Linked DNA regions of Homo sapiens: region 2 is linked to region 1. Evidence: fine-mapped expression QTL. A gene starts in region 1. The other region holds a variant in brackets. All regions are shown on one strand. Distances are between the middles of the regions. Region 1 holds the start of ROGDI (rogdi atypical leucine zipper). Region 2 holds the start of UBN1 (ubinuclein 1).

Evidence for each region.
Region 2: its variant is fine-mapped to the expression of ROGDI in prostate (GTEx, PIP 0.92).

Annotation. Positions count from the first base shown.
Region 1 is chr16:4,798,811-4,815,597 of GRCh38, reverse strand. It overlaps ROGDI (rogdi atypical leucine zipper), which reads left to right and starts at 12,965. Exons shown (of 11, transcript NM_024589.3): 1 at 12,965-13,071; 2 at 13,145-13,216; 3 at 14,013-14,095; 4 at 14,277-14,331; 5 at 15,020-15,100; 6 at 15,817-15,912. The coding sequence starts at 13,027. GLYR1 (glyoxylate reductase 1 homolog) reads left to right here. Exons shown (of 16, transcript NM_032569.4): 11 at 951-1,061; 12 at 1,760-1,861; 13 at 3,350-3,512; 14 at 3,796-3,975; 15 at 4,304-4,428; 16 at 10,288-12,395. The coding sequence ends at 10,362. RefSeq lists enhancers at 10,616-10,910, 12,957-13,457 and silencers at 12,458-12,669, 12,562-13,351, 13,392-13,451.
Region 2 is chr16:4,843,875-4,856,790 of GRCh38, reverse strand. UBN1 (ubinuclein 1) reads right to left here and starts at 9,310. Exons shown (of 18, transcript NM_001079514.3): 1 at 8,581-9,310; 2 at 3,625-3,912. The coding sequence starts at 3,873. GLYR1 (glyoxylate reductase 1 homolog) reads left to right here and starts at 9,503. Exons shown (of 16, transcript NM_032569.4): 1 at 9,503-9,563; 2 at 10,581-10,617; 3 at 11,638-11,717. The coding sequence starts at 9,526. RefSeq lists enhancers at 3,722-4,921, 8,502-9,344, 9,640-9,699, 10,000-10,059 and silencers at 8,630-8,719, 8,730-9,449. The variant C/G (reference allele first, on the strand shown) is at 5,104.

The sequences.
Region 1 (16,787 bases):
ACTTTTAGAACCTGTTTTATTCTATTTGTGGAGACCTGAATTTAAAACATAGAGAAGTTTTGTACGTAAAGATGTTTGGTGATGTGATTTTACAATTGAAAGTGGGCTAAGTGTCAAACTACAGGTCAGCCATTAGGTAAATCACAGTATATCTCTCAGTGAAGTTTTCCATAGTCAACCACTATAAACCATAATTATGCCAGAATTATGAAAGACAACAATATAGATAAATGTGAATCATAAACAACATTAAAAGTCTGATAGAAAATAGTAGGCCCATCCAGCCTGGGCAACATGGTGAAACCCTGTCTCTACAGAAAAAAAAAAAAATCACACATGGGGCATGCACCTATAGTCCCAGCTATTCAGGAGGCTGAGGCAGGAGGATCACTTGAGTCCAGGAGGTTGAGGCTGCAGTGAGCCATGATTGCACCACTGTGCTCCAGCCTGGGTGACAGAGCAAAACCTTGTCTCAAAAAAAAAAAGCCAAAATGGTAGTGTTTTTAGGCACTTCCAGAAGTCTTATTAACCTGACAACAGTGTTGAGAAACAACCCAAAAACGAATGGCCACCAGGTGGAAGGCTTCCAGCGACATCCCCACATTCCCAGCAGAGTGTTGATAGCTCAGGGCCACAGCCAGGACAGCACAGCGGGGGCTGGGGAGAGGTGCTACTGTTCATACCCCATTCTTGAAACAGCATACCTTCAGCAGACACTTGTGAAGCAGTTCATCATCCTAGGCACTCGTCATGCAAAAACTGAAGATGGCCAGTAAAAGGCCCCGTGCACTTCCCCAAAAGTTGGGCTCCTATCTCCATGACCCAGGCTCCCGGCCTCAGCCTCCTGCCTTGGTAGGCCGCCAGGAGGCCTGGTCAGCAATTCTCTGGCCTGGCTGGCATGTTTGTTGTGCACTGCCTGCAGCTCACGTTAGGATCTGTGACTTTTGCAGTGTGATTTGTTCATCCAGGAGGGGGCCCGTCTGGGAAGAACCCCCGCTGAAGTCGTCTCAACCTGCGACATCACTTTCGCCTGCGTGTCGGATCCCAAGGCGGCCAAGGACGTAAGGACCCCCTCCCTCCCCTCAGCAACTCCGGGTCACAGCCAGGATTGCTGGCTGGCCTCTTCCCCTCCTCCCCTGCACACCAAGTGAGTGTCCACATGTGGGGGGCTGAATTTCCCATCAGGGGCCATCTCCCATTGTGAAGGGTGTTTGCATTAATTGAATACAGACTTCCTTTAATTCAGATCAAAGAATGAACACTACTAGGGCCCTTGAAGTCTGTGCTGAAATGTGTCTTGAACAGGCTTCATGTGTTCTTGTTGAACTAGAAGCTTTGGAACTGAATGTGCCTTTGGTCCAGGTGCCAAGCTTCTATGTTTAGCTGTCACTGTATTTGTATATTTTAGAAGTTCAAGTGTGGTAGTCATCTTATTAAACTGGTGACTAGCCTAATCCAAGTAAATCCAAAGAAGTCCCCAAAGTAAATGCTGAGGTTTATTCTTTTAAATGGGGTTTGTTTTTTTTTTTTTTTAAATAAAAAGAAATGCACACACTCACATAGATTCTTTTTAAAGATAAATGGGAGCATGCGGGAAGTACTTTTCTATCCCTTGCTTATTTCATTGTTCTTCCCTTTTCAGCTGATAGAAATCAGGAAATGAGCCAAAACAGCAGCAGGATTCTGATCTGAGGTCTGTAGGGCTCCTGAGCATCTGCCCGGGAGCCTGGGCTATTGCTTCTCCCTTGTGTCCCCACAGCTGGTGCTGGGCCCCAGTGGTGTGCTGCAAGGGATCCGCCCTGGGAAGTGCTACGTGGACATGTCAACAGTGGACGCTGACACCGTCACTGAGCTGGCCCAGGTAGCAGCCTTCCTTGGGCTGGCTCTCCAGCATCTTTTCTATCAGAGCCCAAGACCCAGGCTTACAAGAGTGGGCAGTTAAGTTACTCTAGAGCCAAAGCCAGAGAGGGAAGAGGAGAGGCGAGTAGCCTTGGGACTAGCCTATCCCGTGCTCCACCTTCAAACCGCAGCTAGTCTGAACAGCCATGGGCAGTCGCTGCATGGCTGGGATGGGCATCAAGTCCTGGAGCTGCCAGCCTTATGATGAGAAGCAACCCAGGCCGCCCGCCTGGCATTGGGGTTTGAGCAGCTGTCTGCATTTGACACTGGCAAAGCATCCCTCCTCCCCGAGCATCTGGCCCAAATAAGGGAGTGGGGACTTTGGGACCCACATATGTTCTGAGGGGAGGGCAGCATCCACAGGGGAGGTGTGTGTTCAGCCGAGCCATTGACATGGTCACATCTGGTTCTAGTTGTTGGTCTCTAAGAAATTCCAGTCCGGGCGCGGTGGCTCACGCCTGTAATCCCAGCACTTTGGGAGGCCGAGGTGGGCGGATCACGAGGTCAGGAGATCGAGACCATCCTGGCTAACACGGTGAAACCCCATCTCTACTAAAAATACAAAAAAATTAGCCGGACGCGGTGGCGGGCACCTGTAGTCCCAGCTACTTGGGAGGCTGAGGCAGGAGAGCGGCATGAACCCAGGAGGCGGAGCTTGCAGTGAGCTGTGATCGTGCCACTGCACTCCAGCCTGGGCAACAGAGCAAGACTCCGTCTCAAAAAAAAAAAAAAAAATTAGCCAGGCATGGTGGCGGTTGCCTGTAGTCCCAGCTACTGAGGAGGCTGATGCAGGAGAATGGCATGAACCCGGGAGGCAGAGTTTGCAGTGAGCTGAGATTGCGCCACTGCACTCCAGCCTGGGCAACAGAGCAAGACTCTGTCTCAAAAAAACAAAACAAAAAAATTCCGGCCAGGCGTGGTGGCTCACTCCTGTAATCCAAGCACTTTGGGAGGCCGAGGCGGGCGGATCACAAGGTCAGGAGATCAAGACAATCCTGGCTAATATGGTGAAACCTGTCTCTACTAAAAATACAAAAAATTAGCCAGGCGTGGTGGTGGACGCCTGTAGTCCCAGTTACTCGGGAGGCTGAGGCAGGAGAATGGCATGAACCCGCGAGGCGGAGCTTGCAGTGATCCGAGATCGCTCCACTGCACTCCAGCCTGGGCGACAGCGAGACTCCACCTCAAAAAAAAAAAAAAAATTCCAAGTCAGTTGGGTTCCTGTGTGGAGACCCCAGCGTCTCATCACTGCTGTGATTCGGCCTGTGTGACCTGCACATGGTTAGCTCCTGAGTTTAGGTGTCAGCTAAAGGACCTTGGTATGGGTGGCCGTCCCCTCCAGCTCTGGAAGGTGATGAGCAGCCGTGGCCACTCAGCAACACTCCTTGAGTCCTGCCCAGAGAGCGCTGGGAGAGGGGAGGCCTCCAGAAGCTGTGACTTTTCTTTCCAGGTGATTGTGTCCAGGGGGGGGCGCTTTCTGGAAGCCCCCGTCTCAGGGAATCAGCAGCTGTCTAATGACGGGATGTTGGTGATCTTAGCGGCTGGAGACAGGGGCTTATATGAGGACTGCAGCAGCTGCTTCCAGGCGATGGGGAAGACCTCCTTCTTCCTAGGTAACACGCCTGCACCTGTCAGGCCTGGAGCCTGGGGCCACATCTCCTCTGTTTCACACTGATGACAGCGTCAGTCCCACACGGCCTTTCTGCCGGGGACCCTGGGGAAGGTTTCCTTTCACCTGCATAGTCAGTGCGTGGAAGGAGGAAGAGCCAGTCTGTCGGGGGCAGGTGAAGGGGGCCTCCCCTGGAGAGAGGTGGGTCTGAGCAGAGGTGAGGGTGGACAGAGAAGCCCTGTCTGTGGCATTCTTGGGCTGTGACCGTGAGTCTTTACCCTGGGCAGGTGAAGTGGGCAATGCAGCCAAGATGATGCTGATCGTGAACATGGTCCAAGGGAGCTTCATGGCCACTATTGCCGAGGGGCTGACCCTGGCCCAGGTGACAGGCCAGTCCCAGCAGACACTCTTGGACATCCTCAATCAGGGACAGTTGGCCAGCATCTTCCTGGACCAGAAGTGCCAAAGTGAGTTGTTTTTGGCCCCTCTTCTTGCATTTGGTGTTTGATTAGAGCAGGGTACTAGGTCAGGGATTTAGTGAGCGTGAAAGATGCCCCTCCCCAGTCAGTCCCTGACCCTGGCCAGAGGAGGTTCAGAAACACAGTGGGCGGGATTTGGGGATATAGGCTGGGAGCTGCAGCCCTCAGGTGTCTAAGGGTGAGTGAGGAGCCAAGAGGCCTAGGCTATGTGGAACTGAGCCCTGAGTATGTTTTAGGTACTGACACCTGGTGGACCGTAAGTAGTTTTTAGTTTCAGGTCCTTGGCTTTTGTCTGATACTGGCTTTTTCTCCTCAGATATCCTGCAAGGAAACTTTAAGCCTGATTTCTACCTGAAATACATTCAGAAGGATCTCCGCTTAGCCATTGCGCTGGGTGATGCGGTCAACCATCCGACTCCCATGGCAGCTGCAGCAAATGAGGTAGGGTAGATGTGGCCCAAGCCCCAAGGCCCTTCAGTTTCTTTTTCTTTCTTTTTTTTTTTTTTTTAACGGAGTCTCACTCTGTCACCCAGGCTAGAGTGCACTGGTGCGATCTCAGCTCAATGCAACCTCCGCCTCCTGGTTTCAAGCAATTCTCCTGCCTCAGCCTCCTGAGTAGTTGGGATTATAGGTGCCCACCACCATGCCTAGCTAATTTTTGTATTTTTAGCAGAGATGGGGTTTCTCCTTGTTGTTCAGGCTGGTCTCGAACTCCTGACCTCAGGTGATCCACCCGCCTCTGCCTCCCAGAGTGCTGGGATTACAGGCATGAGCTACCACGCCCAGCCATTCAGTTTCTTTTTCTTTTTCTTTTTCTTTTATTTTGAGACAGAGTCTTGCTCTGTCGCCTCAGGCTCTTGCCACCACGCCCGGCTAATTTTTTTTTTTTTTTTTTTTTTTTTTTTTTTTTTAGTAGAGACAGGGTTTCACCATGTTAGCCAGGATGGTCTCGATCTCCTGACCTCGTGATCTGCCCGCCTCGGCCTCCCAAAGTGCTGGGATTACAGGTGTGAGCCACTACACCTGGCCAAGTTTCTTTTTCTTTTATCGTTTCCTTCCCTCTACTTAGTTTAGCTTTTCTTTGTTCTTTTTCTTTTTTTTGAGACAGAGTCTCACTCTGTCGCCCAGGCTGGAGTGCAGTGGTGTGATCTCAGCTCACTGCAGCCTCTGCCTCCTGGGTTCAATAGATTTTTGTGCCTCTGCCTCCCAAGTAGCCTCCCAAGTAGCCTGGGATTACAGGCGTGCCCCAACCCGCCCTGCTAATTTTTGTATTTTTAGTAGAGATGGGGTTTTGCCATGTTGGCTAGGCTGTTCTCCAACTCCTGACCTCAGGAGAGCCACCTGCCTCAGCCTCTCAAAGTGCTGGGATTACAGGTGTGAGCCACTGTGTCTGGCCTCTTTGTTCTTTTTCAAACCCTTTAAAGTGGAATCTTAAATCATTTATTTTAATCCTGCTTTCTTTATAACATGAGTATATAAATCTTTAAATGTCCACTAATCCGTGTTAATTTGTTTTCTGATTTCTTCTTTGATCCATGAATTACTTAAAAGTTTATCTAGTGTTTGGGTTTTCCTAGATATCTAATGATTATTGATTTTTAACTTACTGCTCTATGATCAAAGAACATGCCCTGCCCTGTATTGGGTTTTTTTTGTTTTTTTGTTTTTTGTTTTTTTGTTTTTTTTGGAGACAGAGTTTTGCTCTTTCGCCCAGGCTGGAGTGCAGTGTCGCGATCTCGGCTCACCGCAACCTCTGCCTCCCAAGTTCAAGCGATTCTCATGCCTCAGCCTCTTGAGTAGCTGGGATTACAGGCACACACCACCATACACAACTGATTTTTGTATTTTTAGTAGAGATGAGGTTTCACCATGTTGGCCAGGCTGGGCTTGAACTGCTGACCTCAGGTGATCCGTCCACCTCAGCCTCCCAAAGTGCTGGGATGACAGGCATGAACCACCACAACCAGCTGCCTGTATGATTTTTTTTTTTTTTTTTTTTGAGACGGAGTTTCGCTCTGTCACCCAAGCTGGAGTACAGTGGCACGATCTCGGCTCACTGCAAGCTTCGTCTCCCGGGTTCACTCCATTCTCCTGCCTCACCCTCCTGAGTAGCTGGGACTGCAGGCGCCTGCCACCATGCCTGGCTAATTTTTTGTATTTTTAGTAAAGACGGGGTTCCACTGTGTTAGCCAGGATGGTCTCATTCTCCTGACCAAGATGTTGAAACCCCTATCTCTACTAAAAATACAAAAAATTAGCTGGGCATGGTGGCAGGCACCTTTAATCTCAGCTACTCAGGAGGCTGAGGCAGAGAATTGCTTGAACCTGGGAGGCGGGAGGTTGCAGTGAGCCTAGATCGCACCACTGCACTCCAGCCTGGGCAACAGAGTGAGACTCCATCGCAAAAAAAAAAAAAAAAAAACGAAAGCTGCTACAGCCTTCTCAGGCTTATTGTTTTCATGGTATGTATATTTTTCCATCCATTTCCTCTCTTATTTATGTCTAAATTATGGCTTTGATAGACAGTATGTAATTGGGGTTTGGATTTTTATCCATTTTGACAGTATCTGCCTTTTAATTAGCATGTCTATTAGCATTTTTCAAATGATGTTTTAAGCACTTAACACGTGCACTTTTTTTATATTTGAGACACAGTCTCACTCTCTTGCCCAGGTAAAGTGCAGTGGCACAATTATAGCTCACTGCAGCCTTGACTTCCTAGGCTCAAGCAATCCTCCCACCTCAGCCTCCCGAGTAGCTGGGACTATAGGCGTGCACAACTGTATCCAACTTCACATACACTTTCGAAAAGCTTTTTAGGGTAGAAGTTCCGCTTTCTTAGCTCATCTTCATAGAATTTGAATCTAAAAAAAAAACAACTGAAAAACATTTGTCTTTACCATATTATTATAATAAAAATGACACTTTGTGAAACAGCAGCTGTATTTTTAAAGTACTATCAGCTGATACACTTTTATTTTATGTTATTTTATTTTATTTTATTTTATTTTAGAGACCGAGTTTCACCCTTGTTGCCCAAGCTGGAGTGCAATGGTGTAATCTCGGCTCACTGCAACCTCTGCCTCCTGGGTTCAAGTGATTCTCCTGCCTCAGCCTCCACAGTAGCTGGGATTACAGGTGCCTGCCAGTACTCCTGGCTAACTTTTTGTATTTTTAGTAGAGATACGGTTTCACCATGTTGGCCAGGTTGGTCTCAAACTCCTGACCTCAGGTGATCCACCCACCTCAGCCTACCTAAGTGCTGGGATTACAGGCGTGAGCCATGGCACCCAGCCAGTACTGTTCTTTTGACACCTGGCTTTTCATAGTATAATTCTCTGTTCCTGAATTGTATTTTTTTTTTTTTTTTTTTTTGAGACAGAGTCTCACTCTGTTGCCCAGGCTGGAGTGCAGTGACATGATCTCAGTTCACTGCAGCCCCCACCTCTTGGGTTAAAGTGATTCTCCTGCCTCAGCCTCCCAAGTAGCTGGAACCGCAGGCATGCACCGCCACACTTGGCTAATTTTTGTATTTGTAGTAGAGACAGGGTTTTACCATTTTGACCAGGCTGGACTCGAACTCCTGGCCTCAAGTAATCCGCCTGCCTTGGCCTCCCAAAGTGCTGGGATTACAGGCATGAGCCACCGCATGCAGCCTTGTTCCTAAATTCTGTCTTCTGTCTCTTGTCTGTTTCAACATTTCAGAGTACTTATTTCATGACTCTTTCAGATTACATTACTATTTCAAGTCCCCCCTGTTCATTCTACCAGTGGATTCTCTCTGGATAGTAGAATTCGTTGTGTATTTTATAAGTCTTTTTTGATGAAAGCTCATTTCTGACTATAGTTATTTCCCAAGGGTTTCATGTGGCTTGGGCTGGGAAAGCTTCTCTTTGAAGTGACTTCCAAGTTGCCTCCACCCTGACTACAGGATTCATTGGCTTGGAAGCAGAGTTTTTAGGTTAATTTCTCAATGCAGCTCGCTGCTTTCAGGTCGTTTGGATGGTATGAGCTTAGACTCTATACTGTTAGGAGTTCAGAGGTTAGGTTCTGAAGGTTAACTGGTGCATTGACCTTTAGTAGTTGTATTGATATGTGGTTCAATTTGGGGCTGCCATTTTATCATTTGATTTCTGTTCGTTGTCTTTGTCTTTTGTTTGTTCCTCCTTTCTTACTTTCTTTTTAGAATTCCAGTTTCAGCTGGGCACGGTGGCTGACACCTATAATCTCAACACTTTGGGAGGCTGAGGCGGGCAGATCACCTGAGGTCAGGAGTTCGAGATCAGCCTGGCCAATATAGTGAAGCCCAGTCTCTACTAAAAATACCAAAAATTAGCCGGGCATAGTGGCGGGCACTATTAATGCCAGCTACTCCGGAGGCTGGGACAGGAGAATCACTTGAACCCAGGAGGCGGAGGTTGCAGTGAGCCGAGATCGTGCCATTGCACTCCAGCCTGGGCGACAGACCAAGACTCCGTCTCAAAAAAAAAAAAAAAAAAAAAAGGGGCCAGGCGCAGTGGCTCACGCCTGTAATCCCAGCACTTTGGGAGGCCGAGGCGGGTGGATCACGAGGTCAGGAGATCAAGACCATCCTGGCTAACAGGGTGAAACCCTGTCTCTACTAAAAATACAAAAAATTAGCCAGGCGTGGTGGCGGGCGCCTGTAGTCCCAGCTACTCGGGAGGCTGAAGCAGGAGAATGGCGTGAACCCGGGAGGCAGAGCAGAGCTGGCAGTGAGCCGAGATCACACCACTGCACTCCAGTCTGGGCGACAGAGCAAGACTCCATCTCAAAAAAAAAAAAAAGAAAAAAGAATTCCAGTTTCATTTATCTATTTTCTTTTTTACTTTGCCTCTGCATTCTTTTTTTAGTGGTTACTCTACAGATTGCGGTATAAATCCTTAAGATAGAGTTAATCTTGCCAGGCACAGTGGCTTATACTTGTGATCCTTGTAATCCTAGCACTTTGGGAGGTCGAGGCAGGGTCGAGGCAGGGTCGAGGCTTAAGCAAGCCCAGGAGTTTGAGACCAGCCTGGGCAACATAGCAAGACCCCCATCTGTACAAAAAAAAATAAAAAACTAGCTGGGCGTGGTGGCGAGCACCCTATTCCTAGCTACTTGGGAGGCTGAGGCAGGTGAGGCAGGAGGATTGCTTGAGCCCAGGAGTTCGAGGCTGCAATGAGCCATGATCCTACCACTGCACTCCAGCCTGGGCAACAGAGCAAGACCCTGTCTCAAGAAAAAAAAAAAAGACAGTTAATCTTGTACCATTTCCCATTAAATGTAAAAACTTTGCAACCACACAGAAGCATTTCTTTCCCCCTTCCTCTCCCTCATCCTTTAAGGCAGGGTTTCTCAACCTCGGCACTGCTGCCATTCTGTGTGGGGGGGCTATCCAAGCACTGCAGGATGTTGGGTAGCCCACCCACCAGACGCCAGTGACATAGCTCCTCCTCAGGTGACAGAAAATGTCTCCAGATATTACCAGATGTCCCCTGGGGGCAGAAGCACCACAGGTGTGAGAACTCTCACTCTGAGGTATAGGTGTCCTGGGTGTTTCATCTGCCCTTGTTTTATTTTTTATTCATTTATTTATTTATTTGAGACAGTTTTGCTCTTTTTTTGTTTTTGAGACAGAGTCTCGCTCTGTCACCCAGACTGGAGTGCAGTGGTGTGATCTCAGCTCACTGCAACCTCCGCCTCCCAGGTTCAAGCTATTCTCCTGCCTCAACCTCCTGAGTAGCTGGGATTACAGGCACCTGCCACCATGCCCGGCTAATTTTTTGTATTTTTTTTTTTTAAAGAAGGGGTTTCACGACGGTCACCAGGCTGGTCTTGATCTCCTGACCTCGTGATTCACCCACCTTGGCCTCCTAAAGTGCTGGGATTACAGGCATGAGCCACTGCGCCTGGCCCTAATTTTTGTATTTTTAGTAGAGATGAGGTTTCACCTTTTTGGCCTGGCTGGTCTCGAACTCCTGACTTCAGGTGATCCACCCACCTCGGCCTTACAGGCATGAGCCGCAGTGCCCGGCCAATGCTGAATGTTTTATATCCCATAGTGTATTTCATTCTCACAAGATCCCCCGGGTACTGTTCCTTCTCCCAGAGCAAGAAGCACAGTGGCTGAGGTCCAGAGAAACGGAGGTGCTTCATGCAAGGTCAACACAGGATTCCTAACCGGACAGCCTGGGCTCCAGCACTGCCTGCTGGCCACATCCACCACTGCCTCCAGGAATCAGGTCTAGGTCTTGAAGGCAGCTCTGGGGCCAGAGACTGAGCCATCTCTTTTTTTTCCAGGTGTACAAAAGAGCCAAGGCGCTGGACCAGTCTGACAACGATATGTCCGCCGTGTACCGAGCCTACATACACTAAGCTGTCGACACCCCGCCCTCACCCCTCCAATCCCCCCTCTGACCCCCTCTTCCTCACATGGGGTCGGGGGCCTGGGAGTTCATTCTGGACCAGCCCACCTATCTCCATTTCCTTTTATACAGACTTTGAGACTTGCCATCAGCACAGCACACAGCAGCACCCTTCCCCTGAGGCCGGTGGGGAGGGGACAAGTGTCAGCAGGATTGGCGTGTGGGAAAGCTCTTGAGCTGGGCACTGGCCCCCCGGACGAGGTGGCTGTGTGTTCACACACACACACACACACACACACACACACACACACAGGCTCTCGCCCCAGGATAGAAGCTGCCCAGAAACTGCTGCCTGGCTTTTTTTCTTCCGAGCTTGTCTTATCTCAAACCCCTTCCAGTCAAGGAACTAGAATCAGCAACGAGAGTTGGAAGCCTTCCCACAGCTTCCCCCAGAGCGAAGAGGCTGTAGTCATGTCCCCATCCCCCACTGGATTCCCTACAAGGAGAGGCCTTGGGCCCAGATGAGCCAGTACAGACTCCAGACAGAGGGGCCCTTGGGGCCCTCCAACCTCAGGTGATGAGCTGAGAAAGATGTTCACGTCTAAGCGTCCAGTGTGCACCCAGCGCTCCATAGACGCCTTTGTGAACTGAAAAGAGACTGGCAGAGTCCCGAGAAGATGGGGCCCTGGCTTTCCAGGGAGTGCAGCAAGCAGCCGGCCTGCAGGTGAGCATGGAGGCCCGGCCCTCACCGCCTCGAAGCCATGCCCCAGATGCCACTGCCACAGCGGGCGCTCGCTCCTCCCTAGGCTGTTTTAGTATTTGGATTTGCATTCCATCCCTTGGGAGGGAGTCCTCAGGGCCACTAGTGATGAGCCAAGAGGAGTGGGGGTTGGGGGCGCTCCTTTCTGTTTCCGTTAGGCCACAGACTCTTCACCTGGCTCTGAAGAGCCACTCTTACCTCGGTCCCCTCCCAGTGGTCCCACCTTCTCCACCCTGCCCTGCCAAGTCCCCTGCATGCCCACCGCTCTCCATCCTCCCTCCTCTCCCTCTTCCTCCCGTGGAGACAGTATTTCTTTCTGTCTGTCCCTTTGGCCCAGACCCAGCCTGACCAACGATGAGCATTTCTTAGGCTCAGCTCTTGATACGGAAACGAGTGTCTTCACTCCAGCCAGCATCATGGTCTTCGGTGCTTCCCGGGCCCGGGGTCTGTCGGGAGGGAAGAGAACTGGGCCTGACCTACCTGAACTGACTGGCCCTCCGAGGTGGGTCTGGGACATCCTAGAGGCCCTACATTTGTCCTTGGATAGGGGACCGGGGGGGGCTTGGAATGTTGCAAAAAAAAAAGTTACCCAAGGGATGTCAGTTTTTTATCCCTCTGCATGGGTTGGATTTTCCAAAATCATAATTTGCAGAAGGAAGGCCAGCATTTACGATGCAATATGTAATTATATATAGGGTGGCCACACTAGGGCGGGGTCCTTCCCCCCTCACAGCTTTGGCCCCTTTCAGAGATTAGAAACTGGGTTAGAGGATTGCAGAAGACGAGTGGGGGGAGGGCAGGGAAGATGCCTGTCGGGTTTTTAGCACAGTTCATTTCACTGGGATTTTGAAGCATTTCTGTCTGAACACAAAGCCTGTTCTAGTCCTGGCGGAACACACTGGGGGTGGGGGCGGGGGAAGATGCGGTAATGAAACCGGTTAGTCAATTTTGTCTTAATATTGTTGACAATTCTGTAAAGTTCCTTTTTATGAATATTTCTGTTTAAGCTATTTCACCTTTCTTTTGAAATCCTTCCCTTTTAAGGAGAAAATGTGACACTTGTGAAAAAGCTTGTAAGAAAGCCCCTCCCTTTTTTCTTTAAACCTTTAAATGACAAATCTAGGTAATTAAGGTTGTGAATTTTTATTTTTGCTTTGTTTTTAATGAACATTTGTCTTTCAGAATAGGATTGTGTGATAATGTTTAAATGGCAAAAACAAAACATGATTTTGTGCAATTAACAAAGCTACTGCAAGAAAAATAAAACACTTCTTGGTAACACAGCTGTGCCGCAGGAGTCCTGCTTCCCTCGTCCTCGGCGAGATGGGTGGGAGGAGAAGGCAGCGGCGGGGCCGGGGTGGGTTTTCGGGACCTCCGCGTCCGGGGTGAGACGGACTTGGGAGTGGCGGCGAGGTCCGCGGCAGGGTTGGAACCACGACCAATGGAGCCAAGCGGGCCAATAGGGAGGAGGAGCGGGGACAGACTGTCCTGCCGGCCAATGAGTGAGCGCGAGTGGAGCAGAGCGCCCTATCATATCCTGGGGGCGCCCCGGGAGCTCCGCCCCCAAGCGGGCGCCCCAGGCTGGTGCCGGCCGCGTCCCTGGCCAGCCGGAGCAAGCCTGACTCGTGCAGCCGCCGGCCGCGTCCCTGGCCAGGCGGAGCGAGCCTCACTCCCGCAGCCGCCAGTCTGGTTCCAGGGCTCCCGCAGGTTTCGGGGGCCGAGGCGGACCGACAGGCGCCAGCCAATCGCGAGCACGGAGCCGGCCTGGGGGCGGGGTGGTACCCGCTCCGCCAATCGGGTGGGGGCGGAGCCAGACGCCGGGGGCGGACGGGAGGACCGGAGGACCGAGGACAGAAAGATTGGTGGACAGGAGCAGCGGCCGGTGGGGAGGGCGCTCGGCGGCGGCCTGCGGCCATGGCCACCGTGATGGCAGCGACGGCGGCGGAGCGGGCGGTGCTGGTAAGGCGCGCGGGCCAGCGGGCGGGCCGGCGGGGCGGCGGGGCCGGGCGCGACCGCCGGGTCTGTCCCGCAGGAGGAGGAGTTCCGCTGGCTGCTGCACGACGAGGTGCACGCTGTGTTGAAGCAGCTGCAGGACATCCTCAAGGTAACGACCCGCGCCCTGCCCCGCCGGGCGTGGCGGCCCTCCCTCCTCATTTCCCTGGCTCCACCTGGGGCCGCGCGGCTGCGTCCTGAGCGCCTACAGTGTGCGGCTGCCGCGGCTTTCAGGCAGGGCCCCGCCTCCGCGAACTCGAGCCGACCTCATTATATAAGTACCTGTGTGCGGGCAGGGGCGGGTCCCGACGAGGGTGCTAGCAAGGGCCTGAGTCCCGCCCGGCCTCGGGTCGGGGAAGGCCGCCTTGGGAGCAGCGGCATCCAATCTGGGAGCCGAAGAATTCTGCCTCTGCCTGGCAGTGTGACTTCAGCCAAGTCACTGAACCTCCCTGGGCCTCCCTTTTCTCATTGGCAAAAGGGAGATAACAGTACCCGCTTCGCGAGGCTGGGGTGTAGATAAATGAGCCAGGCAGCTCACAGAAGTAACCGGCGTAGTGCTTGCTGTGGCCCAGGACCGCGGGTTACCATAACTACTGCCTTGTTCCCTGACTCTGCCCCTTGCCCCTTTCCCCCTCAACCAAGCTGGGAGGCTGCCCCTGTCTGTTTTGTATTCCCCGAGGCGGGCACACAGGAGGTGTTCAGGGAATGTGGTATAAGCAGAGATCGGGCTCACGGTTAGGTGCCCTGGGGGCTTGGGCAGGGTCTTCCCACCCCAGCTGAACCCAGGTGAGGCCAGGCCACGTTGTTCCTTCCCCCCGCTGACTTGGAGGGAGGGGGGCTTCTGGAAGGAGCACTGGGCCGGGCCTGAGTGGGCGCTACCAGCTCCCCTCCTTCCCTCTGTTCCACAGGAGGCCTCTCTGCGCTTCACTCTGCCGGGCTCCGGCACTGAGGGGCCCGCCAAGCAAGAGAACTTCATCCTAGGCAGCTGTGGGTGAGCCTGGGCTAGGCGGAAACCGGGGAAATGGGTACCTTGGGGGGTAGGAGGCATGGCCATAGCCCTGTCCTGCAGACCAGCTGGTTGTGCGATGGGACAGGAGGGGCAGCCCGCCGGGAGGGAGGGCTGGGTGGTGGGGGGGTGACCACAGGCACCGCTCTGACGCCACATGTTACAGCACAGACCAGGTGAAGGGTGTGCTGACTCTGCAGGGGGATGCCCTCAGCCAGGCGGTGAGTCCCCCGGCCCTGTCCCCTCCCATCCTGCCAATGGGGAAGAGCATGGGAGCTCCCACTTTCTCTCTGTACAAGCCCTGCGACTCTGGGCGGGACCCTTGATCTCTCTGGCCTCAGTTTTCTCCTTTGGAAAATGACAGCAACCCTCACACCTTCTCCCGGGATCGGTGTGCAGATTCAGTAAGAGGTGCAGGAGAGGGGTTCTTTGCACACGGCCTGGCCTGGCGTCCGGACCAGTGAAACATGGGCATTGGTGGATTAGGCTGGCCACACATCACAGTTGAATCAGCCAATGCCTGAACTCCAGTCTGCACCCGACTCTGTGCCAGGCACCAAGGCGTGGGGGGAGGCCCCCCTCCTGGGCTCCATCTGTTGCCCTTTGTAGACACTAGATGCACCCCGTTCGCACAGAGCCTCACAGAGGCTGCCTTTCCTCTTCCCCTTCCCCTTTCTTCACCTCTTTCCATTTCACTTCTTTGTGGCTCTTCTTGGGCCTGGTTTCCTGTTTCCTGACCTCCCTGTTCAACCCCCAAACGGCCAAGGCATTGGGAGACCCTCTGCCCTATACAGCGGCCAAGGCCTGAACCACCACACACCCCATTTCTGCCCTGGGCTTAAGGGCTCAGAGTGGCTGTGGCAGGAGGTGCCCCCCCACTGCCCAGCTCACCCCACTCTTGCCTGTCAGGATGTGAACCTGAAGATGCCCCGGAACAACCAGCTGCTGCACTTCGCCTTCCGGGAGGACAAGCAGTGGAAGCTGCAGCAGGTGACCCCGCCCCTCCTGGCTAGTGCTCAGCCACAAGGACAGGCGGCAGCAGGCCTGCCGCGGGGCCTCCCTGGAGAGGGACTAGCCCTGGGGATCTGTGGCCACAGCAAGCCTGGGAGGGTGTTTCCTAACAGCAAAGCTGGGGGCAGGCGTTTCCTGAAGCCCTGGAGGCTGCGCCATGTGGGGAGGTAGAGAACCTGGCCTGAGAGCCCCGAGGGCCACATCGGGACTGTGGAGTCCCCACAGCAGCTGGCTGGATGAGATGGTTCAGAAGCCCTCTGAAAAGTCACTCCCTTGCCCAGAGCCTCCAGGGACTTGCCATGGCTCTGGGGATGAGGCCCATGCTCCCTGGCAGCTCCTGTACCAATGGGCCCCAGCCTCCTCCCCTGCCCCCTCCACCCCGACTGTCTCCATCTCAGCACCCTTGCCCCTGCCTTGTCGCCCTGTTTGCTTCCCTCCGCAACTCGCACAGACTCTTGTCTTGGGCATTACTGTGTGTCCATCCCTTAGAAAGGAGGGGGCAGTCAGCTTGGGCAGAGACCAGGCCTGCCCCAGGTGATGCCAGATGCCCATCACCTGGCGTGGACCTGGCCCTCTGGGGCACAGGGATGACAGTGTGGAGAGTGGAATGACGTGGGGCAGGCAGGCAGCACCCACTCTCCCCTCCTGGCCGCATGGAAGCTGGCGTGACCCCTCTGGATGACCCCTGCTTCCAGATCCAGGATGCCAGAAACCATGTGAGCCAAGCCATTTACCTGCTTACCAGCCGGGACCAGAGCTACCAGTTCAAGACGGGCGCTGAGGTCCTCAAGGTGAGCTGCCCCCGGGCCTGACTCCTGGGCCTAGTCCCACGTTCTTGATCCGGAATCACACCTGGGTTCCAATCCCAGGGCCTCCACGTTGAGCTGTGCAACCTGTAAGCACTTACCTGCCGACTCTGTGTCTCCATTTCTACCTGTGGGGTCAGGGGCAAGCTGGAGTGACTGTTCACCATAATAATTCAGGTCACGGGGCCCCCAGTAAGCACTCGGCACACACCACTGCCGGTAGCAGCAGTGAAAGCCTTCACATTAACCGCGTGGCACATGTGAAGAGCTGACCTGGGCACCTGACCTCATGCTTGAGTTCTGCCCCTGACTTGCTGTGTGTCCTCCGGTGGTTCACCTGCCCTCTCTGGACCTCTGTTTCCTCACACTTAGAACCAGATAGACTAAGATCCCTTCGAGAACTGTAACCACCCTAGGGTGCTACAGGCCCTATACCCCCAGTCAGCTCTTACGTGTTTCCTGGGAGCCACATCACCCTGGTACTCATGGCCACGGCTGAATGGCACGAAAGCTGGGGCTCTGAGGAGTCTGCCAGGGCTCTGCTCCACGGCAAAGGGAAGGAATGGGCTCCAGGTGGTCCCACCATCCATCAGCCGTGACCCTGGCTTACCCCCCTGAAAACCTCAACCCAGTCATCCATCGCCTCTTCCAGGAAGCCCTCTCTGGCCCTTTACAACCAACCTTTGTTGCCTGTACCCCTGTCCACAAAGCCTGTGCCCCTGGGACTGACCTCCCAGGACCTTCCATTCCCCATTGATCCAGCACCCAGGATCCCCGTGCAGTGAATCAGCCCCATCCCGACTGACATTAGTGCAGACATCCTGCCCTCCTCCATACCCAGCTGGAGCCCAACTACCTGT
Region 2 (12,916 bases), 43 kb before region 1:
TTTCTACAATGATCGCATATAACTTGAGTGGTTATGTAACTGTAAGAAATCCCACCAACCTTGAGCAGCACTGGATTCTATGTATACTACTGAACGCCTTGCCAACAGCAGTCTTCCAATAACTACCATTTCCTGACTGTATGACGGAAGGTCCAGCTCTGTCCCAACACTAATCAGGAAATAAGCTCTCTTCTTTCTAAGACCTCCAGGGCCTGTGTCGTACCAGACTTAAACAATGACCATATTGTAATTTCTGTTACCTGCGGTGGTACCATTCTCTCAAAACATCTATAGGATGTTTGTTTTGAGGCTGGTACAGTGTTTTCTCTAACTTTCTATAGTCCTCTGAGTCTAGCACAATGCCTTCATACTATTAAGGACTATACACTAAAAGAACTGCTGCACAAATGTGCCTGATTTTATTGTATTTTTAACACTGCAGAGTAGACCCACGACGATTTAGGAGTTCTGAACCCGAAGTCCAGGACTGAATCCTCTGAATTGGATCAAAATTCTCTGTGTATCCTCCATGCATTTTTCTGCAATGGTGAAGGGCATCTGTAGTCCCCAAAAAGGTGACATCAGAGCACTGGAGTTCTAATTTCAGTTGACCTGCTGATTTGGTTTGAACCCATGAATAAACACATTAACCAACTCCTGCTCCTGTCTCTTCCTCTAAAGGAAGAAGATACCATTTTCCTGAAACAGGAATTATAAAGGGATTTGAAATTACTTTCTGTCATTCTGCCCAGTGGTGCTCATGCAACAGGCTGACCCTTGGTACAGACTCACAGGCCTCCATTCTGGCAATCAGGCAATCAGATCTCAATCAAGGAAACACTTTTTCTTTTTTGGTTTGGTGTTTTTTGGTAGGGGGAGATGGAGTCGCCATCACCCAGGCTGGAGTACAGTGGCATGATCTCAGCTCACTGCAATCTCTGCCTCCTGGGTTCAAGCAATTATCCTGCCTCAGCCTACCGAGTAGCTGGGATTACATGCATGCACTACCACACCCGGCTAATTTTTGTATTTTTAGTAGAGATGGGTTTTTGCCATGTTGATCAGGCTGGTATCAAACTCCTGACATCAAGTGATCCGCCTGCCTCGGCCACCCAAAGTGTGGGGATTACAGGCATGAGTCACTGCGCCAGGCCTTCCAGCCTTTTTTTTTTTTTTTTTTTTTTGACACAGGGTCTTGCTTTCACCCAGTGCGGTGGTGTGATCACGGCTCACTGCAACCTTGACCTCCCAGGCTCAAGCAATCCTCCCACCTCAGCTTTCTGAGTAGCTGGAACTTCAGGCATGCACCATCATGCCCAGCTAATTTCTGTATTATTTTGCACAGATGGAGTTTCACTATGTTGCCCAGGCTAGTCTTGAACTCCTGTGGTCAAGTGATCCTCATGTCTCAGACTCCCAAAGTGCTGGGATTACAGGTGTGAGCCACTATGCCAGGCCAAGAAAACACATTTTTTTAATCTCAGGAAAAAAAGATTAATCCTTCTAACCAAAAATACCCTCCGAACAGCACACCTGTGAATAAGACCGACTGATCACTTGGCACTGAGGCATACTGCTAGAAAATTCACAACATGATTTCATTCTCGTTCCACACTCAGACAACTGTGAACCAATTACCAGCCTCATCCCCATTTCACTAAGAGACATGCTAGAGACCACAATGCTGCGAGTGTGGGGCCCACTTACCTTTTCCTCAGAGCCTAGCACAGTGCAAAGGCAGACACAGGTGCTTAAAAATGCTTTTCACGGGCCAGGCACGGTGGCTCACGCCTGTAATCCCAGCACTTTGGGAGGCAGAGACGGGCGGATCACGAGGTCAGGAGATCGAGACCATCCTGGCTAACACGGTGGAACCCTGTCTCTACTAAAAATACAAAAAATTAACCAGACGTGGTGGCGGGCGCCTGTAGTCCCAGCTACTCGAGAGGCTGAGACAGGAAAACGGCATGAACCGAGGAGGCGGAGCTTGCAGTGAGCCAAGATTGCACCACTGCATGCCAGCCTGGGCGACAGAGCGAGACTCTGTCTCAAAAAAAAAAACAGCTTTTCACCTAGGCGGTACTCAAATACCATACAATTCCATCTACATAAAATACAAAAACACGGCCAGGTGCGGTGACTCACGCCTATAATCCTAACACTTTGGGAGGCGGAGGTGGGTGGATCACTTGAGGTCAGGAGTTGGAGACCAGCATGGCCTACATGGTTAAAATGGTAAAACCCCATCTCTACTAAAAATACAAAAAAAAAAAAAAAAAATTAGCCAGGCGTGGTGGCTGGCACCCGTAATCCTAGCTACTCGGGAGGCTGAGGCAGGAGAAACATTTGAACCTGGGAGGCGGAAGTTGCAGTGAGCCAAGATTGCATCACCGCACTCCAGCCTGGGTGACAGAGTGAGACTTGGTCTCAAAAAACAACAACAACAACAAAAAAGAGAGGCCAGGTGCTGTGGCTCATGCCTGTAATCCCAGCACTTTGAGAGGCCAAGGTGGGTGGATCACAAGGTCAGGAGATCGAGACCACCCTGACTAACACATTGAAACGCTGTCTCTACTAAAAATACAAAAAATTTGCCGGGCGTGGTGGCGGACGCCTGCACTCCCAGCTACTCGGGAGGCTGAGGCAGGAGAATGGCGTGAACCCGGGAGGCAGAGGTTGCACTGAGACAAGATGGTGCCACTGCACTCCAGCCTGGGCGACAGAGTAAGACTCTGCCTCAAAAACAAAAAAACCCCACAAATCTAAGCAGATCTAAGCTGTTAGAAATCAGGGCAGTGGTTGCCCATAAGTATTGAGGTAGTCTTCTGGCAGGGCAGAAGGAGGGTTTCTGGGGTCCTGATAAATATATTTTGTGACCTACGTGCAGGTTACATGGGGGTACTGAGTTCATGAAAATCCATCAAGTTGTGGCTAGGTGCAGTGGCTCATGTTTGTAATCCCAGCACTTTGGGAAGCCAAGGCAGGCAGATCACTTGAGGCCAGGAGTTTGAGACCAGCCTGGCCAACACAGTGAAACGCCATCTCTACTAAAAACACAGAAATTAGCTGGGTGTGGTGGCGTGCACCTGTAGTCAGTCCCAGGTACTCGGGAGGTTGAGGCAGGAGAATCACTTGAACTCGGGAGGCGGAGGTTACAGTGAGCCGAGATCGCCCCATTGCATTCCAGCCTGGACGACAGGGCGAGACTCGGTCTCGAAAAAAAAAAAAAGAAAGAAAAAAAAAAAGGCAGTCTACGTGTTTTTTTGTCTGCCCCTATACTAGGTAGACAGCAAGATTCTGTTGGAAGAGGAAAATGTCCAGCATGAAATTCTAACACTGGAACTGTCAGGGACTGGTTTCATTTACACATAACGTTTATAACCTTGGCAGAGAAAAATGTATTGTTTTTAAAATTTATGTTAATTAGTCATAATTCAAATTGGCCTCTCCCTTTGCGCACAGAGGTAAGAGAAGCAAATCTTGTGCTTGCCTTGAGTGAGTGACAGGATCTTGGGGCAGCCAAAACCTCAGTTAAGTCTTGCTTCCCCGCTACGGAAGCCCCACATGCATGCACTGACCCCTGTGCGTTAAACCTGCAGCGCCTCTGGGAACAAAGGGGTGTACCTTATCTCCAGGCTGAAGGCCTTTTACCTTCCCTCGGATATTCTTCACCAGCTCTGGGTAGAAGAACTCTGGGCAGCGTTTGTGATCTGGTTCAAAGAGGGTGAGTGTAATCCGAACAGCTGCTGCAGCCGGCTCACAGTCCTGATGCTGTTCTCCTGCCCCAGCCTCCTCCTTCCGGGACTTCTTCAAAAACGCAGGATTCAGGGAACCTGGGAGAGAGGTGAACTGGACCCTGTGGGGCTCCGACATGGCTACCAACAAGTCTTAGCGGGTGTCACTGCATGGCTTCTGTTAACATTGAAAAGAAGGGCCAGGTCAAACGAAGATGATAAAATAGTTTACCTGCCTAATTAAAGAGATTTAAGTTTAAGAGAATTTCATTGTCAAGAAAACTCCATTGTTATATTTTGTCATTTATTGTTTTTTTCTGCTTATTCATCCTAAAATTTTTTCACAATCATTCAGAGATAGTCACTGCTTAGCATACTTCCAGTCTTTTTTCCTGTGCATGTGTATCCTAGATCCTTGACCTTAAAGAACCCATGCTGACAGAGCCTTAGACCTCCAAATTGTAAAGACTACTAAAATATTAATTATTTTCCATTTAATTTGTCTAACACTTATTTTTTCTGGCTGAGAATAATCTTTAAGACCCCTTTATTTTCATCACCAGCAGTTTCCTATCATTGGGAGCCAATCTTCACAATGACAAAGCTTTTATCAGCTGAACAAAAGATATTGCCTACCCCAGGATAGTAAAGAACCAGTGACTCAGGAGGGTGTGGCTAGGCTCACTTCCTAACAAAGTTACACACTCCTGCCCTGTGCACCACTCTCACACCCAAACACTGGCCTTGACAAAATAACAAATTATGACATGCCAAAGACCTTCAAAATCACTTGGGAATGGTCAAAATAGATTTTGAATACAGAATTCCAAATGTTCACAGAATATGAATATGCTAATACATGCCATACATGTTTTCTGCTTACTTCGTATACAATTTTGTGTCCTGCTTTTTAAAAGAGTTCATATTCTAGTGTGAACTTTCTACCATACCAATAAATAAAGATATTCATTGCAGCCTTGTTTATACAAGAAAAATGATGGAAGCAACCAAAATGACAATCAAATGACAATCAATCAGGGAATGGTTGAATAAATTGTGACTTTCTTATTGACTTGTAAGCGCTCTTGATATTATACATAAATTATTATACATTATAGATATACAAAATCTGTCATATCTCTTATAAGTACTTCTTCTTGTTTTGTTATTTGCTGTTTAGTGTTGCTTAGAGTGAGGTATGATGAAAGAAATGTTAACTTTTTTCTTTTTTTTTTGAGCTAGGGTCTCGCTGTTATATCCAGGCTAGAGAGCAGTGGCCCAATCACAGCCACTTCAGCCTCAACCTCCCAGGCTCAAGCAAACCTCTCACCACTTCAACCTCTCGAGGAGCTGAGACTACAGGTATATC[C/G]CACCATGCCTGGCTAATTTTTTCTATTTTTTGTAGAGATGCTGACCCACTATGTTGCCCAGGCTGGTCTTAAGCTCACAACCTCAAGCGACCCTCCTTCCAAGGAAATTATAACTTTGTATGCAGTTAAAACTAGGCTCTTTTCCTTTGAGACTCCTCCCATTTCTTTTATGCCTAGAATGTTCGTCTCCAACCAGATCTTATAGAAGAACTTGTGTATATAGGTTTTTTGTTTTTTGAGACAAGGTCTCACTCTGTTGCCCAGGCTGGAATAAAGTGACTCAATCTCAGCTCACTGAGGCCTCAACCTCCCAAGCTAAAGCGATCCTCCTACCTCAGCCTCCCTAGTAGTTGGAACTACAGGCGTGCTAATTTTTGTATTTTTTGTAGGGACGTTGTTTTGCCATGTTGCCCAGACTGGTTTTGAACTCCTGCTGGGATTACAGGTGTGAGCCACTGAGCCCAGCCTATATGGTCATTTATAGATATTTTTTCACATTTACTTCATTAACCCCAGATGAATTTGCTATGCTATAAAGTATGAGGAGAGGCTGTAACTTGGTTTCTTCCAGCATCAATCACTAAACAATCCTTCCTTCCTCTGCTGATTTGGCATATATTGCAAAGCAACATCACAGATATCTAAGGCCTGTTTCTGAAGTCCATGTGTCATATTAATACGGTATTTAGAGATTCTTTAATCAGTATTGCACTGTTTTGTAAAGTTTCATACTTTAATGTTGCAAAGTTAAAGCTCATGTTTATTATCCTTCTTTATAAATAATACTTTGCCATTCCAGCCTATGTATTATTTTGGCAGGTTTCAAAAAAACTCACTGTATTTTGGTTGTAAATCAATCACAAATGTGAGTTAATTCAGGAAAATTAGCATATATCGTATATATCCACATACATGTAGACGTATTTGTATATATCCAATATTCATTTGTCGAATTATGATCACAAAATCAACTTATAACATCACATAAGGGAACAAAATATCTACAAATGAAGAGTTAAAATAATTCTAATCAGGCGGCAAAACGATTAGCAGTGTAACAGGCTGGCGCTGCAAAAGACCATCTCCCAACACGTACTAAGATGTTAAAGGAGATTTCCCTAAAAGAAATCTCCAAGGCCCTCAGGATATTTGTGATGCGCTGGGTTGTGGAAATAAATCCCAGCTGAAGGCTTACAGATTCCCCCACTGATAGAACCGGAACAGTCTCACTATAAGAAGGGAATCAGCAAGTTAACCAATGGGATGCAGGAAGGTCATCCTTGAATTGGCAACCAGGTCCTACTCCCCCTGTCCAGGCAGTAAACACATAACCTTATCTCAGTCCAAGTCTGAGAGACTGCAGCTTCAATCCTAGATGGCAAAACTGCTCCTTTCAGTTGCTTAAGTGACTCTCCAGGCCCAAGAAGGTAAAAAATAGGACTACAGGATAAAGTGAGTCAAATCTGTACTCTATTACCACTTAGATTTGGGGTTGTTTTATAATCATTATAATGTTCTGCTGTTACTAAGCCATTTGAAACATTTAAGAGAATCCAATATATTTAACAATGGTACGTTAGACTTACAATCATAATTCAAAATGCTTAAGAAAATATAATTAAGTTCAAACATGTTTGAATGCTTAAAAAAAACTTACATTTATCTATTAGACTTACGAGAGTTGCCTAAGTCCTTGGAAAGATTTTAGCTTTTTTTGTGGTTTTTTTTTTTTTTTTTGTGAGACAGTTGCCTCACTCCTGTTGCCCAGGCTGGAGTGCAGTGGCACCATGAGAGCTCACTGCAGCCTCAACTTCCCGGACCCAGCACTTTGGGAGGCTAAGGCAGGATGATCGCTGGAGCCTAGGAGTTTAAGACCAGCCTGGACAACATGATGAGACTTCATCTGCACAAAAAAATTTTTTTTAAATTAGCCAGGTATGGTGGCACACCCCTGTAGTCTTGGCTACTAAGGAGGCTGAGGTGGGAGGATGGCTTTAGACTGGGAAGGTCCAGGCTGCAGTGAGCCGTGATCCTGCCACTGCACTCCAGCCTGGGCGACAAGAGTGAAACTCCGTCTCAAACAAAAAAAAGAAAAAAACAAAGATCCCCCTTTAAAAACCTCAGTTGGTGTTACTGAGAAAATACTAGCCTTCCTTGTCCCTTGGTTATCCTCAGCAATTTTTAATTTTTTCTTACTATATATATATATATCTCCTTCTAAACATTGTATTTTCAAACTGGTTATTGATGAAACAGAAAAACTAAATTGTGCATTCCAACTTATAATGAGTACCCTTCCTGAATTCTTATTTTAATGGGTTTTTTGGTTTTTGTTTTTGTTTTCAAAATAGGCAGACCTATCATCCACGGAAATGAGAATTCTGTCTTCCCTTTTCCAAAAATTGCATTTCTTATTTTTGTTTCCTGTCTTACTGCACTGGCTAGAACTTTCAGGTTTTAGGCAATATATTCTTATTATCTAATAGTGGTAGAAATGTACCATGTTTCTGATGTTAAGGGGAATGCCTCTAGGTTTTGGTGCAATGTTCATTTGAGATTTTTTTTTCTTTTTTCTTTTTGGCGGGGGGACGAGTCTCGCTCGCTCTGTCGCCTAGCTGGAGTGCAGTGACATAATCTCGGCTCACGGCAACCTCCGCTTCCCGGGTTAAGCGATTCTCCTGCCTCAGCCTCCCAAGTAGCTGGGACTACAGGCATGCGCCACCACGCCCGGCTAATTTTGTATTTTTAGTAGAGTACTGGGTTTGACCGTGTTGGCCAGGCTGGTCTCGAACTCCTGATCTCAGGTGGTCCACCCGCCTCGGCATCCCAAAATGCTGGGATTACAGGCTTATACCACCCTGCCCGGCCAAGATTCATGTTTTTATTTAAGTTATTAAAATCTCATTCAATTCCTCACAAATTCAGAATTTTTAAACAGGAACTTATGTTAAATTTTTATCAAATTATTCCCTGGAATCTTAAATACGCTTTAAAGATCACTTTGTCTTAAAAATACACACGCAGTAAATGACAGTCCGTGCAGCTAATTCTTGGTACTTCAGGGAAACTGATCTCCCAAGAAAAATCAGGCTGCGGGACGACCCAGTACGCTAAACACCGACTTGCAACCGAAATCTCTAACCACCACAATGCCTTGGGGAAATGCGTGTCGACTCGCCACCTTTGCCAGCTGGCAGTGACTCAACAAGAGCCCGACACCAAGTCTAAGTCAATCCTTAACACTGTGGAGTCTGTGATCGGGACTGGGATCTTTTGCAAAATTGTGATTCTACCTGGTCTGCTGAAGTTTGGGCCGACGCTGCGCTCAACTGCAGTTAACACTTCCCAGTTCATGGTTCAGTTTTAAAGTGTCCAAACTACGCCCGGCATCTGTCTTCCTGTTGTCACAACTTTTTCAAAAGTGCAAAACTAGGGCAAGGCTAACGAGAGAGCCCGGACCCGACAACGACACGCACCTTTGTCCCCAGCGCCGACGCGGGCCGCAGACGTCCCCCCGCGGCGGTCCTCATGCCGGTCCCCGGGCGGCGGCGCAGCTAGCGGTCGGCTGCTAAGCCGTGGCTCCCAGCGGGCGGGCGGCCCGCGCCTCGGCCCATGGCCGGGTCCCCGAGCCCAGGGGAGCCTGGTGTGCCGCGCCGCGCGCCGGCCCAGGAGGAAGCGAAGAAATGCCAACTCGACGTCCGCGCAGCCACTCCGGGGACACCAGGGGGTCGGGGGAGCAGCCTCCGGTCGCCCCAGGAGAACTTGCGGCGCGGGACCCCGCGCTCAGACGGCGCCTCCGAAAGCGGCCGTCGGGAGGAGCGCTCCAAAGAACACGGGCGGCGGGAGCGGACGGGCGCGGACACCGGGGCCTCCCGGCCTGCGGCCAAGCAGAGTTGCCGGGCGCGGGAGCCCAGACCCGGCGGAGGCTGAGTTCCAGGCCGCGCCGAGCTCCGTCAGGGTAGCTCACTGGCGCTGCGACGGGGCCGACCAGCGCCTCGGGCTCGGGAATGGCCCCGGGGCCCGCGCCGGACCAACGGGCGTAACGGAAGCGCCGAGAGGGGAGGGGCGCGGAGTCCAAGACCCGGGGGCGGGGCGAGCCGCGAGGCCGGCTCCCTCTCGCGCTCAGCCGGTCGCACCGTCGCCGCCGCCGCCGCCTCAGACCGCGGGCGCTTCGTTGTCACGAGCCGAAGGGAGGGGGAAGGAGCCGGGAGTCTCTGCGCTCCGGCGCGCGGAGACCGCGGCGCTCGCGTCACGTGCCCCTCGGTCGACCAATGATCCCCGGCGGGCGCGGTGACGTCAGAGTAGCGGCGTGGCCAGTGACAGCCGGCCCCCGTCACGTGGTCGGGCCCACTCCAATGGGCGGCGCCGGGGCGACTTGCTGTTCCCGGCGGCCCGTGCGTCGGCGGTGGTTGGGTGGTAAGATGGCGGCTGTGAGTCTGCGGCTCGGCGACTTGGTGTGGTGAGTCCGAGCGGCCGGGCCAACCGAGACGCGCCGGGGAGCTACCCGCCTGGGCGCGGGGTTCGCTGCCGGCCCTGGAGCTGCCTTTTTATGCGCTCCAGGTCGCGGAGAGAGGGGAAGAGAAGGTGCCGGCGCTTGCGAGCGGCGCCAGGCGGAAGGGGCAGTCCAGTCCCGGGGGACCGAGGCCGAGGGTGGCCACGTCGGGCACCGGCTTTGATCCCCGAGGCCGGCCGGGTGGGGTCTGCACTCGGGGCCCAGATACTGGCGGCCCCCGTGAAGGGAGCCGCCGGTGCCGCGAGGCTTCCCCGGACGACCGGTCCCCGGGGTCTTGTTGGGGCTTCCCAGAAAGCAGAAGCGCCGGGGACCGGACCTGCGAGATCTGGCCGGTGCCATTCGGTCAAAGCCCAGGTTGCGATGCAGCCGACCTGTGCGGCCGGCTCAGCCGGGGTTGTCTAAACCGGACTGCTGGCGTTGCCCCGCGAAGAAACGGCGGGGGGACTTCTCCTTTACAACCGATGGCTTGGCAGTGACCAGTGCACGCTTGGGTGCCTCCCGCGGTCTGCTTCTGTGTCCCAGACAACCGCCCGAACCAAGACTTTGTCGCCGCCTCCCTCGAGCTGCGTAGCTTGTTTCTCCACCCAGAGGAAGGCTTCCATTAGCATTTGTCAAAGCCAGGCAGGTCTCCTGTTGAATTAAACCAGACTTAGGGAGGGAAAGTCTGTGTTTACAGAGGAAGCTGTCCTCCCACCCCCGTCATTAAGAAGCTCTAGACAAGTGACTTTTGACAGTTGTGTTGTTCTGTATTCCTTGTCAACAGAAGAATGGATATGCGTTGTGCACATAAGTATACAATTTTGCATTTTACTTCTGAGGGTGTTGGGCCCAGCTATGAAAGCTTTTGTTTCGGCATTTGAGGATGCCAGCAGAGATTTAGGAAAATAAATTGCGTATTGAGTGGGTTGAAGGAGATGGACTGGCTTTTGCAGGGCAAGTGTTGACTCTTTGTGTTTTCTCTAGGGGGAAACTCGGCCGATATCCTCCTTGGCCAGGAAAGGTGAGTGTCTTGCTACTAAAGGAAGAGATCTGAAGTTGGGTTTGAAGAGGTGGAGAATGTAAGATGCATTCCTCTCAGTTTCTAGTATTGAGTTAAATTGGGCTCATTCAGATGGCACTTAGAATTTTTTTTCCCCTAGTATCGGTTATTTTTTAAAAGGCAATGCAGTATACACCAGATCATTAAATCTTCTCTAAACCCTTATTTCTGGATTTAGAGGAGGTTTATGAAGTTTCTTTTTTAACCCCGGAAATAATTCTAGTCTGAATTTAGCTTTATGCTTAAATGTAACAAAAGGAGAAGAAAATATAAATTATCCAGGAAGAAAGTCTAAATGTAGGTTAGTGAAAAGCCAAAGTATTTTTGTCCCAACTAAGTTTAAATCTTCTTTCCATGTTACCATATGTGCTACTCCAGTGCCTCTTTGCAGAAGTTGGCATTCCAGATTTTGCATGAGGTGATCCATCATTGCTTTCCAAATGTTGTGTTTTTATATTCTTGCTTGGAGCCCGGGAGGTGTCTTTAGATGGTCTCTTTGCAATATGGTGTTTTCTGTGCCTCGGTTGTCCTTTGTTTTCACTATGTCCTGTGTCAACCCTTCCTGCACAGGAAGTATTTCAAAGAGTGTCGTCTGCATTTTTTCAGTAATAATGGGGTCACATTGGAGCAGGGGTGGGGTGGTGGGGGGCAGGGGATGCTGTTGATCTTAGTTTTAACTGCTTGTAAAACAGGGCCACTGCAGTAAAAGGGATATTGTGTCTACTGAGCACTGTGCTACATGTTAAATATTGGGAACTTCTAGAATATCTACACATTTCCATACACCTCAATAGAAAAATGGGAGATTTAGACAAGTACTAGGCCTTGGGTTCTGTTTTGTATATAAATAAATTTATTTGTAAGTAAGTCCTTTTAATTTACTTTTTTCTTAGCAACGTAGAACTGTAGAGCAATGTGGAGCCACTAGAAAGTGGGCTGCTGTGTTGCCAGCCAACCTTTTTCCCCCCTTTTATCCTCCAGATTGTTAATCCACCAAAGGACTTGAAGAAACCTCGCGGAAAGAAATGCTTCTTTGTGAAATTTTTTGGAACAGAAGATCAGTGAGTAGTACTCACCAGGAGTCTCCCTTCGCCTTTCTTTCTGTGTTACCTGGAGTCTGAGCTGCTTTGAAAATATTCTAAGGATCCTTAGTTCAGTCTTCTTATAATGTGTAATACTGGCATCTCATTCTGCCTTCATACCTAAATAAAGGTGCAATTTCTTGCAGAAATTGCCCTAGACAACTGTCCTAGGTCTATAACTAAGTCAGGCAAGAACTAGGTTCATTTACCTTCTAACTATAACAATCACATTGAAACAGTTTCTCACATGTTTCTTTACCCAACTCCAAAGGCAGTTCCTTTTTGTTTGTTTTTGAGACAGAGACTTAGTCTGTCACCCAGCCTGGAGTGCAGAGGCAGTCTCAGTTCACCGCAACCTCTGCCTCACTGACTCAAGCGGTTCTCTCACCTCAGCCTCCCGAGTAGCTGGGACCACAGGTGTGCACCACCATGCCCAGCTAATTTTTTGTAGAGGGGGTTTTACCATGTTGCCCAGGATGTTCTTGAACTCCTGGACTCAAGCAATCCACCTGCCTTGGCCTCCCAAAGTGCTGGATTATAGGCGTGAGCCACTGCGCCCAGCTGGCAATTATTTTTATAAAAGCCATGTTCAGTTCTCTTTTAATGCCATATATCATTATGGTTCATGCTTGGGGTATACAGTGGAAACTTTTATTTATGTTAATAAAAGTAATTGTTCAATCATGTTCTCATGTGTAAAACTAAGTGATTTGCTTTGACATTGTTATAGTAAGTCTTTTTACCAGATCTGTCCTAAGTTGGGGAAACCAGGACCATTAATCTGAGACTCTGACCATATAACATGTTACAGTGACGGGAAGAACGTGAAGAACCTGTATTAACTTGAGTTGCTAGTGATTTGTTTAGCTTTTTATCACTATGTCAAGTGGCTTACCTGGGTCTAGCTAGATGGTTTGATTTTTTTTTTTTTTTTTTTTTGAGATGGAGTTTCACTCTGTCACCCAGGCTGGAGTGCAGTGGCATGATCTCAGCTCACTGCAACCTCCACCTCTCGGGTACAAGTGATTCTGGTGCCTGAGCCTCCCGAGTAGCTGGGACTACAGGCGCACACCACCACACCCGGCTAATTGTTTTATATTTTTTAGTAGAGACGGGGTTTCACCATGTTGGCCAGGCTGGTCTCAAACTCCTGACCTCAAGTCATCTGCCCCTCCCCC